2 separate regions of the Homo sapiens genome follow, and region 2 is linked to region 1. A link means that fine-mapping ties the variant in region 1 to the expression of a gene that starts in the linked region. Tissue or cell type: whole blood. Region 1 holds a variant in brackets; the other region holds the start of a gene. All regions are shown on one strand. Distances are from middle to middle. Region 1 overlaps THADA (THADA armadillo repeat containing). Region 2 holds the start of THADA (THADA armadillo repeat containing).

What was found.
Region 2: it holds the start of THADA, and the variant in region 1 is fine-mapped to the expression of THADA in whole blood (INTERVAL, PIP above 0.99).

Annotation. Positions count from the first base shown.
Region 1 is chr2:43,511,287-43,516,677 of GRCh38, reverse strand. The region is part of intron 22 of THADA (THADA armadillo repeat containing); the gene reads left to right. Among named protein-coding and RNA genes, the nearest start is that of THADA, 82 kb to the left of the region's middle. RefSeq lists enhancers at 3,190-3,239, 3,250-3,299. The variant A/T (reference allele first, on the strand shown) is at 2,221.
Region 2 is chr2:43,593,555-43,598,945 of GRCh38, reverse strand. It overlaps THADA (THADA armadillo repeat containing), which reads left to right and starts at 2,908. Exons shown (of 38, transcript NM_022065.5): 1 at 2,908-3,015.

The sequences.
Region 1 (5,391 bases):
ATTCTCCCTCTGCCACGTACTTGCTATGTAACCTTGAGCAAATTATTTAGCTTCCGTCTCTTCTACCCCCTTATTTTACCCAATTTTTAAACATTAGTGTGAAATATTTGCATGTACTAGAAGGTATAGTGAATACTAAAATTAGCAGTTGTACAACCACGATGTAAATACCTGGAGGAAGAGTATTCACGGCAGAGAGAATGTCAGGTGAAAAAGTCCTGAGAGGCTTGGGCTTAGGGTAGGTATTTAAGGAACATCAGGTAAACCAATTATGACTGGAGTAGTGTGAGCATAGGAAAGAGTTGTAGATGAGATCAGAGAAGTTGTGAGGACTAGACAGCCTAAGACATTGTGTAAGAACTTTGGCTTTTACTCTGAGTAAAATGGGGAGCCATTGGAGTGTTTGTGAACAGAGGAGTGACATGATCTCATCTTTTAAAAGGATTACTCTTACTTCTGTGTTGATAATAGACTATAATAGTGAAAACAGAAAGACCGATTAGTTACAATATTGCTATACTACAGAAAAGAGATAGTGATGACTTGGAAAGTGGTGGAGGAAGTAAAACGTGATCTGAATCTGGATGTAACGTGAAGATAGAGCAGGCAAGGTTTGTTGACAGATTAGATTTGCTATTTGAGAGAGAGAGCATAACTACAAAGTTTTTGGCTTGAGCCCCTGAAGAGATCGATTTGTTATTCTTTTATTAGGATGGGCAAGACTGTGGGTAGAGTAGGTTTTTGGAGGAAGATCAGGAGTTTAGTTTGGGGCATGTTAAGTTTGGCATGTCTAGTAGACACCCCATTGAAACTACTTTAGGTGTACTTTGTTGAAGTACATCCTTTAGAATTTCTTTTGGTGAGAGTCTCTGGAAGGCAGACTTAATCTTTGTATATTTCAGATTGTCTTTTTCTTACCTATGCTTTTGAATGTACTTTAACGGGGTATACAATTCTGGTGGACAGTTGTTTTCCTTCACTGCTTTTGTTATTGCCAGTGAGAAACTTGTGTTTGGTATAATTGATGTTCCTTTGTAGATCTCCAGTTTTTTTTCCTTTAAATCTCCTGTGGCTTGTAAGTTTTTTTATTAATCACAATTTTGCTATGCTTTTTCCAGGTATGGAACTATCGTTATGTATATACACACACATACTTTATGGTTTTTTCATTCTGTATACTGTTTTGGGTAAATTTCCCAGAAAACTATCTTCTAAGTCACGAATTCGTTAGAATTCATCTTATCTGTTTTATATGTGTGTGTGTATATATAGTTTATATATATTATATATAAAATATTATATATTATATATTATATATTATATATAAAATATTATATATTATATTATATATTATATATAAAATATTATATATTACATATTATATATTATATATAATATATTATATATTATATATTATATATTATATATAATATATTATATATTATATATTATATATAATATATTATATATTATATATTATATATAATATATTATATATAATATATAATATATTATATATAATATATAAAATATATTATATATTATATATAAAATATATTATATATAAAATATATTATATATAATATATATATTTATATATATTATATATAAAATATATTATATATAAAATATATATATTTATATATATTATATATAAAATATATAATATATATAATATTATATATTATATATAAAATGTTATATATTATATATAAAATATTATATATTATATATAAAATATACGTAAAATATATATTATACATAAAATATATATTATACATAAAATATATATTATACATATTATACATAAAATATATATTGTACATATTATTATATATAAAATATATATTGTACATATTATTATATATAAAATATATATTGTACATATTATTATATATAAAATATATATTATACATATTATATATAAAATATTATATATTATACATATTATATATAATATATATTTATATATATATTATATATATTATATATAATATAATATATTATATATTATTATATACAATATATATATTATATATAAAATATACATATATATAAAATATATAAAATATATATAAAATATACATATATAAAATATACATATATGTTATGTATATTATTTATATTGTGTATAAAATATACATATTATGTATATTATATATTATATATAAAATATACGTATATATTATGTATATTATATATATTATATATTATATATAT[A/T]TTTTTTAAGACAGGGTCTCACTCTGTCACCCAGGCTGGAGTGCCTTGGCATGATCTCAGCTCACTGCAACCTCTGCCTCTTGGGCTCAAGCGATCCTCCCACCTCAGCCTCCCAAGTAGCTGAGACTACAGGCAAGTGCCACCATGCCCAGCTAATTTTTGTATTTTTTTGTAGAGATAGTGTTTCACCATGTTGCCCAGGCTGGTCTCAAACTCCAGAGCTCACGTGATCTGCCTGCCTCGTCCTTCCAAAGTGCTGGGATTACAGGCGTGAGCCACCGTGCTTGGCTGAAAGTACACTTTTATTTCTAGTCTTTTTTATTTTTATACATGCCTGTTCTTATTTCACTACGGCTTGTTTTTCATGATTTCTTGTTCTTTATTTTTTTTTTTTTTAAGGGACAGTGTCTCACTGTGTCATCCACACTGGAGTCTAGTGGTGTCATCATAACTCACTGTAGCCCTGAATTCCTGGGCTCAAGTGATCTTCCTGCTTTAGCCTCCTGAGTTGCTGAGACTACAGATGTGAGCCACCATGCCCAGTTAACTCTTCTTAAATAGAAGTTATTCCCTTATTTATCACTTCAGTATCCTAAACATAGTTATTTTAAGGTTTTTGTCAGACTGCTCCATAAAATTAGTTTCATATAGAGTGAATGTGTGTTATTACTGATTTTTTTAGGTTGTCTTTCTTAATATAAAATTTATTTCTATATTTTGAATTTTGGCTCACTGGCTATGATGGGAGCCTTTTGTTTACTGATCTCTTTCTAGGCTCTTTCCTCTCTATCAGAGGAACTAGATTAGGTAGTGGTATTTTGGGTGTCCCCCTTCACAGTGAAATTGGGGATATCATAGATCTAGTCACTGAGTTAGTAGTCAGCCTGATTCAGAGGCCCCCTGTGCCCTTGGCTTTTCCTACTGCTACAGCCTCAGGCAGCTCTGGCAGTAGCCCTTTTTCAGGTTCTTCTCAAAAGAGATGAGGCTGCTGAAATTCTTTGGCTGCCACTACTGCTTCTAAATCTGTAACTCTTGGGTCTCTGGTATCAGCACACTCACTACTTTGCATTTCTGTTCATTTTTACCCAGATGATTATCTTGCTTTTGGACTCAGCTGGTTTTGGGGTTTCTATTTGTATATTTTGCATATTGTTAACATTAACTTGCATTGTAGGGGGATGTCCTGTCAAAATGGAAACTCAGCTGTTTCATCTCTATCATTTCAATTGAAACTTTTAATACTTGCTTTTCTCATAATAACCGATGATTTTAGAAAATGACCATTAAGAACTTATTAGACATAAGAACAAACTCAATCCTTCCAAAAACTGTCATTTTATAGAAGAGCAAAGTGAGAAAATGGAGAAATTTAGTAAATTGCCTTGGATTGTACAGCTACTAGGTAGCAGAGAAAGGATTCTAAACCAGATAACACGGGTCCATAATCTGTGTTCCTAACCACTGTGATATATTCCCTCTCATCTGTTAGTTGGGAAAAATAACTTTCTCATAGTTTGTTCCAAGAATGAAGTAAGAGCAGCTGTGAAAAGCCTGGTGTCGTACCAGACGTGTAATAGACATCCAACGAATATTTGTTTTTCTTTCCTTTGTGGCAGGCAAATATATTTCCAGTATGATAGTTTAAATAAAACTTGTGGCCGGGTGCGGTGGCTCACGCCTGTAATCCCAGCACTTTGGGAGGCCGAGGCAGGCGGATCACCTGAGGTTGGGAGTTCGAGATCAGCCCGACCAACATGGGGAAACCCCATCTCTACTAAAAATACAAAGTTAGCTGGGCGTGGTGGCCCATGCCTGTAATCCCAGCTACTCAGGAGGCTGAGGCAGGAGAATCACTTGAATCTGGGAGGCGGAGGTTGCAGTGAGGCAAGATCGCGCCATTGCACTCCAACCTGGGCAAGAAGAGTGAAATTTCGTCTCAAAAACAAAACAAAACAAAAACAAACAAACAAAAAACTTGTAAGTAGATTTTGTTTAAAATGTAGTATGTTTAATTTTAGTAAAAAGGGAGGGTGGAAGTTCCATTATTGGACCAAATTCCCTTGTATGGCTTTGAGGTCAGGACTTGCCTGGGAGAGGTGCAGAGCTGAGAAGCAAGGGAATCAGAGGAATGGGAACCGGTGGTAGAGTTCACACTGGAAACCAGATAAGTAAAGAATTCTGCGTAAAAGCTGGTTTGATGCTGGGGAATTCCAGAGCAGAATAAGAAGGTTTGGACTAGATGGTAGGAGCTGGTGCCTTGAGCATTTCCCAGAGCTCATGAGGTTCCTGGGTCCATGGTGCAGTGGGCAGAGATGGCTCTATCGATGGCATTTTGCCAGCCTTGACCTTGTAGAGCATTCTTCTGGCCTCTGTTTTCAAATTCTGCAAATTAACAAGGAGCATTTGGTTCTTAGTATGCAATACTCAAGGGAATAAATAGGCCCAGTTCACTGTTTACAGTTATACTAGCCAAGTGTTTAAATTAGGGAATTGCCTCTGGGGCCTTGACCTAGCTCTTTCCCCAGTCATCTCATCTTTTACTTCCTCAGCTCTCATATATGGACCTTCCACCATTCGACCTACATGTCCTTCAAAGTCTAGTTCAGATTCCAGCCCTTCCATGACACTGTACTGATCCCATGTACGCCTAATACCTAGTAGTTGCTTCAAGTTAATTGGAAGTTTAGAGAAAGGAAAAGTCCTCGTGAGATGCAGTATTTGGAGGAAGTTTCATCAGTTTGGATGAATAGGGATATGTGTGGAGACCATAAACGAATGCTTAGTTGGGAATATGAGGTGTGTGTGTTGTATGTTAGTATGAGAACCAGCAAAAAACAGTCTTACTAGACCAGAGGAGTTTGTGTAGGAACTTGGAAAAGTTAAGGTTAGATTTAAGTAGGAGGGTTGGGTCCAGGTCATAGGCAACCTTTCAAGCTAGGAGAGTTTGACAAAGTTAGAAGAGGAGTTAGATGATTTGGTTAATAGTCAAGAGCCACTGAAAGTTCATGCAGGGAAGGGTGATGCATAGTGAGATGTTCTACTCTCATTCCAGACCTGCCTTCTTGGAGTGGTTGGTTTTGCCACAGCCTCTGCGGGCTCACTCAGGGAGGCCCAGGGGAGGCCCACTGACAGTTGAGGAGCATTATTGAACTAGTATTTAGTGTATTTGTA
Region 2 (5,391 bases), 82 kb before region 1:
TAGTTTACCACAACAGCCTCACTGGGCTTCCTGCAGGCTCTACAGTCTTTTATTTTTTTTTCTGTTTTGTGACGGAGTCTCACTCTGCAGCTCAAGCTGGAGTGCAGTGGCGCAATGCTAGCTCACTGCAACCTCTGCCTCTGGGGCTCAAGCAATTCTCGTGCCTCAGCCTCCCGAGTAGCTGCGACTACAGGCACACAACATCATGCCCAGCTAATTTTTTTTTTGCATTTTTGTAGAGACGAGGTTTCACCATGTTCCCCAGGGTGGTCTTGAACTTCTGAGCTCAGGTGATCCACCCGCCTCAGCCTCCCAAAGCGTTGGGATTACAGGCGTGAGCCACCGCGTCCGACCTACAGTCTCTTCTTAACAAAGTAGCTCCAGTGATTATTTTGAAATGTACATTAGATGTTATTATTCTTTTGCTCAAAATCACTCCTCATTTCATGAAAGAGTCCATGAAATAATGTGAAAGCCTTATATAATCCAAAGCCCCTTGTCCCACTCCTTAGTATTTACCTTGCTTGGCTCCGGCCACTCTTGCCTCCTTGCTATTCTCCCAGCAGGCAAGCCCTGCCCTGGAAACTTTGTACTGGCTGTTCCCTCTGTATGGAAGGTTTCCCCTTCACCAAGTGTCTATGTCTCTTGGAAATCTTTACTCAGTGAGGCCTACCCTGATTACCCTATTTAAAGTTGCAATGTACCTCCCCTATACTCTCACTTTCCATTCCCCTATTTTTTCCATGGCGGTGTTAAATTGAACTAAATACCGCCTGAGAAAGCCTCTGCACTTCCATATTTGAGTCCTTGTGGATGAACCATAACCTAACTTAGTAGGTAGACAAGACTGAAAGCCTAATTTAGGAGTGTGCTTCTGTAACAATAGCTGAGTTTCAGCCAATCCCAGCAGCCATACTTCAACTATTCATACAATGCTTACTGTTCAAACTGTGTTCAGGTAAGGCAAATGCCAAGCTGTAACCCATCCAGCTGCTTCCGTACCTCACTTGCTTTTTGTACATCACTTTCCTTTCTTTGTCTGTAAATGTGCTCTGACCACGAGGCATCCCTGGAGTCTCTCTGAATCTGCTATGATTCTGGAGACTGCCCGATTTGAGAATCATTTTTCCCCTTGCTCAATTAAACCCTGTTAAGTTTAATTTGTCTGAAGTTTTAACAGTAGCTTCACCTTTCAACATATGTTTATTATGTTTGCTCCCTAGCCCACCTCTCGCTGTGCAGGGTGAAGAGTTGCAGTGTCTGCCAACAAAAAAGGGGTTCGGACCCACTGAGTTATATAATTAGTAGGTCTGAAACAATATACATATTTTAAAAAACATAAAACTTAAAAATGGTTAAAATGGTAAATTTTGCTGTGTATTTTACCATAATTTAGAAAAAAAGGAAATAAAATCTCACAGCTCCTGTAAAGTAGCATTTCAAGAAATTTTTACTTCAGTTATGTGTGAGTACTTCTACGTCCACAGTTTCAAAGTCTGCAATGTATTTCTTACTATGTCAGGGTCAAAAATACCAGAAAAAATTATGGTGGAGAACCGTCTGCACACACTCACCAGCTGACATGCACAACATAGTTCACAGCAGCAATGTTTAGAACAAAAACTGGAAATAATGCACATGTTAAGAGGCAGCAGGATGGATACATAATGAAGTATATTAAACAATGGAAAATTACGGTCCGGGCGCCATGGCTCACGCCTGTAATCCCAGCACTTTTGGAGACCGAGGCGGGCGAATCACGAGGTCAGGAGTTCAAGACCAGCATGAGCAACATGGTGAAACCCCGTCTCCACTAAAAAATACAAAAATTAGCTGAGCGTGGTGGCGCGCGCCTGTAATCCCGGTTACTTAGGAGGCTGAGGCAGGAGAATCACTTGAACCCGGGAGGCAGAGTTTGCAGTGAGCCGAGATCGCGCCACTGCACTCCAGCCTGGGCGAAGAGCACTACAGCCACCTGTAGGTGAATATGAAAAGCAATGCTGAAAGAAGCAAATTGCTGGAGAATACATACGCAATTCCAAAAGCTTCAAAATTGAACGAAACAAGATAGTGATACATACATTATGTGGTAAAGCTATAAAGAAAACCAAGGCAAGCTGATATAAAAAATTCAGAAAATAATTATTAAAAACTTAAGTCATTAACGTTTAGAGAACTGAAATGTCTCTATTTTCCAAATTAATACTCCTGATAATAGCATCAGGTCTTTCCTGATCTTGCCCACTGTCGCAGCTCCCAGTGACACCCCGTTATTGTATTTATTTTTCAAGGACTGAACCATCTGACAATTTGTATGTGCTGCGTAATACATGTATCCTCAGTAGGGGATAGCTTTCAAGGCTAGCGCTTGGCGACGCTCTGACAGTAGAGTTCATTATCTATTGAATGAATATATGCGCTTTGGCACACGTTGGTTCAGCACTACTCATTTTAGTCCGAATCCTTCTCGTGGCTTCCGTTCAGTCGCCGCCCAAACCCCTGCCCCATCTCGCAGGCTCTAAACTCCCTGGACTCGTTCCCGAGTCCCAGACGTAGTTTTCTCCTAGACTCTGCACTGGGCCAACAGAGTGGGAGAAAGGTGGAAGGTCTGGATTGGGAGAAAAGCGCTTCCCAGGCGTCCAAGCATGTGAAGAGAATGAGGTCTTTTCATTCAACAAGAGACCGTTGAATGAAGGCCCCTCAGCAACAAGGCCCGTCAGCCCTAACGCCATGAGGAACGCGCGGCGCTGACGGTACAGTGGCTGGTTAACTAAACCGGATTGCTACCGGCCACCCCGGTGACGTCACGACCTCCTCGAACTCCTGATTGGAGGAGCTGCGTTTGGTCAATTCTCGCGATGACTCCTCCAGGTTACCCCTCTCTCCCTCCCTTTGCCCTGACCCGGTAGTCGACCGTGGACCGCGCTGCGAGCCTCGGAGACGCCGTAGAAGGAGACCTGCTTCCGGGACTGGACCAGGCGCCTGCGACTCTTCTCAGACGCCGACGTGCACGAGGTTTGGCTCCCAGGTGTCCTGCCTGCCAGACCCGCGGTAGCTCGGCTCGGCCAGTTTTGCTAGGGCTGCCTGGCGAGCCACACCAATTCCCATCCTTTGGTATCGCCAGGATTCGGCGGCTGTGAAACTGATTTCCGGTCGCTAAGGTCTCCATGGAGACAGCACTTTAACCACTTTCTCCCACTGTCATTCCTCGACTCCACGTGGTTCAGAAATCGCCCAGAGAATGTTTGTGGGAGTCAGCCAGGAAGGTGTAGAGTGAAGCAGCGTTCTAAAGGGAAGCAGTAAGTGGGACCTAGGAGGAGTGTAATTTACTGGGCACCTTCTGGCCTTGCGGTAGACACGGGATTTACCCCCTTGGGGACCCTGGTTCTTCAGGACACACGTTTAGGCATCATTTGAGCAGGCATAATTACCGAGTCTGCTTTTGTGTAGCCCTCAGAATTGCAAGAGCAAATCCTCCTGCAAACTTGCTTACCTTTCACCAGAGAATAGTCTCCCTAGTTAGGTTTCCCAGTCTCTTCTGGCTTTGTACGATGGTCACTTTCTTAGGAAGCGTGCCTCTATTCCTCTAGATCTGACTATCCCTTTACAAATTATTCTGTTGTCGACACTTTCCTAGCTGCGTCCATTTTTGGTTAAGTGGTTGCTCACCTGCCATTACTGTATGGATTTCTTACTTCCCAAACAGACCATAGGTTCTTAAGATGTAGAATGTCACTTAGATGTAGAATGCATTTTAGGTACCAGATAGTCCACCTTCCTGCCCTTAAAGACATATATCCCTTCTAGAACATCTCTGACAAATGTTTGTTAATTAATTTGTTTATTCGTGAAGTGTTTGTTAAACACCTACTATGTGCCAGGCACTGGTTTGGAAATTGAGACTTGAAACATGAACAAAATAGATTAAAGTTGCTGCCTTCATTCAGTTTGCTACTAGGTGAGACAGACAATATACAAATTTACAAGTTAGGGTAATTTCTGGTACTAGTAAGTGCTATGAAGAAAATTAACGGAAATGGTGTCTACGTGTGTTGTATTGGTGAGATTTTAGATAGAGTGGTCATGGAAGGCTTTTAGAAGGTAATGTTGCAGCAGAAACATGAATGGTGAGAAGGAGTCAGTCTTGCAAAGATGTGGAATGAACATTAAGGGGCAGAGATACTGAGAAGTGTAAAGCCTCTTAGGTGGGAATAAGAGCATCAGGAAGTACAAAGCTCTTGAGATGGTGAAGAGGAGATTGGTTTGAGATGAAGAGTGGAGGAAGGCAGGGTCAGATTATTTAGGGCCTTGAAGGGCAAAATCTCAAGTATTTATTTATTTATTTATTTATTTATTTATTTGAGATGGAGTTTCGCTCTTGTCTCCCAGGCTGGAGTGCAGTGGCACGATCTCGGCTCACTGCAACCTCTGCCTCCTGGGTTCAAGCCATTCTCCTGCCTCAGCCTCCGGAGTAGCTGGGGTTATAGGCGCCTGCCACCACACCCGGCTAATTTTTGTATTTTTAGTTAGTGCAGACGGGGTTTCACCATGTTGGCCAGGCTGGTCTTGAACTCCTGACTTCAGGAGATCCACCCGCCTCGGCCTCCCAAAGTGCTGGGATTACAGGCACGAGCCCCCACTCCTGGCCTCAAGTTTGAATTTTATTCTAAGTGTATTTAGAAACCCTTGGAAAGTTTTAAGGAAGAGAGTAAGTAATTCAATTTGATGAGAGTTTTTTTTAAAGAGATTGCTTTGATGATTGTAAACAGAATGGGCTCTTTGGAGGTAAGTGTAGAAGTCAGGAGACCAGTTAGGGAGCTGTTTCAGGAGTCCAAGAGAAAATATTCAGTCATCTTCTCTTTGAATATTCCTGGTGTTGGAAAATTTCTTTGTTTAAAAGGTAGCCCAGTCCTTAGTGGGACCATAGAGCTTTTCCTTTGTATTGATCTGGAATCTGTTTCCCTGTAGCTTGTACTGACTTTTACTAATCTAATAGCAAGACAAGAAGTCTAAGGCTGGGCGCGGTGGCTCACGCCTGTAATCCCAGCACTTTGGGGGGCCGAGGTGGGTGGATCACGAGGTCAGGAGATCGAGACCATCCTGGCTAACATGATGAAACCCCGTCTCTACTAAAAATAGAAAAAATTAGCCGGGCGTGGTGGCGGGCGCCTGTAGTCCCAGCTACTCGGGAGGCTGAGGCAGGAGAATGGCCTGAACCCAGGAGGCTGAGCTTGCAGTGAGCGCAGATCGCGCCACTGCACTCCAGCATGGGCGAAGGAGCAAGACTCCGTCTCAAAAAAAAAAAAAAAAAAAAAGTCTGTAGTAGACAAATAAATCTATTCCCTTTTTCTCCAAAACAGTCTAGCAGCTGTTTTAAGGCTCTTGTTCTGT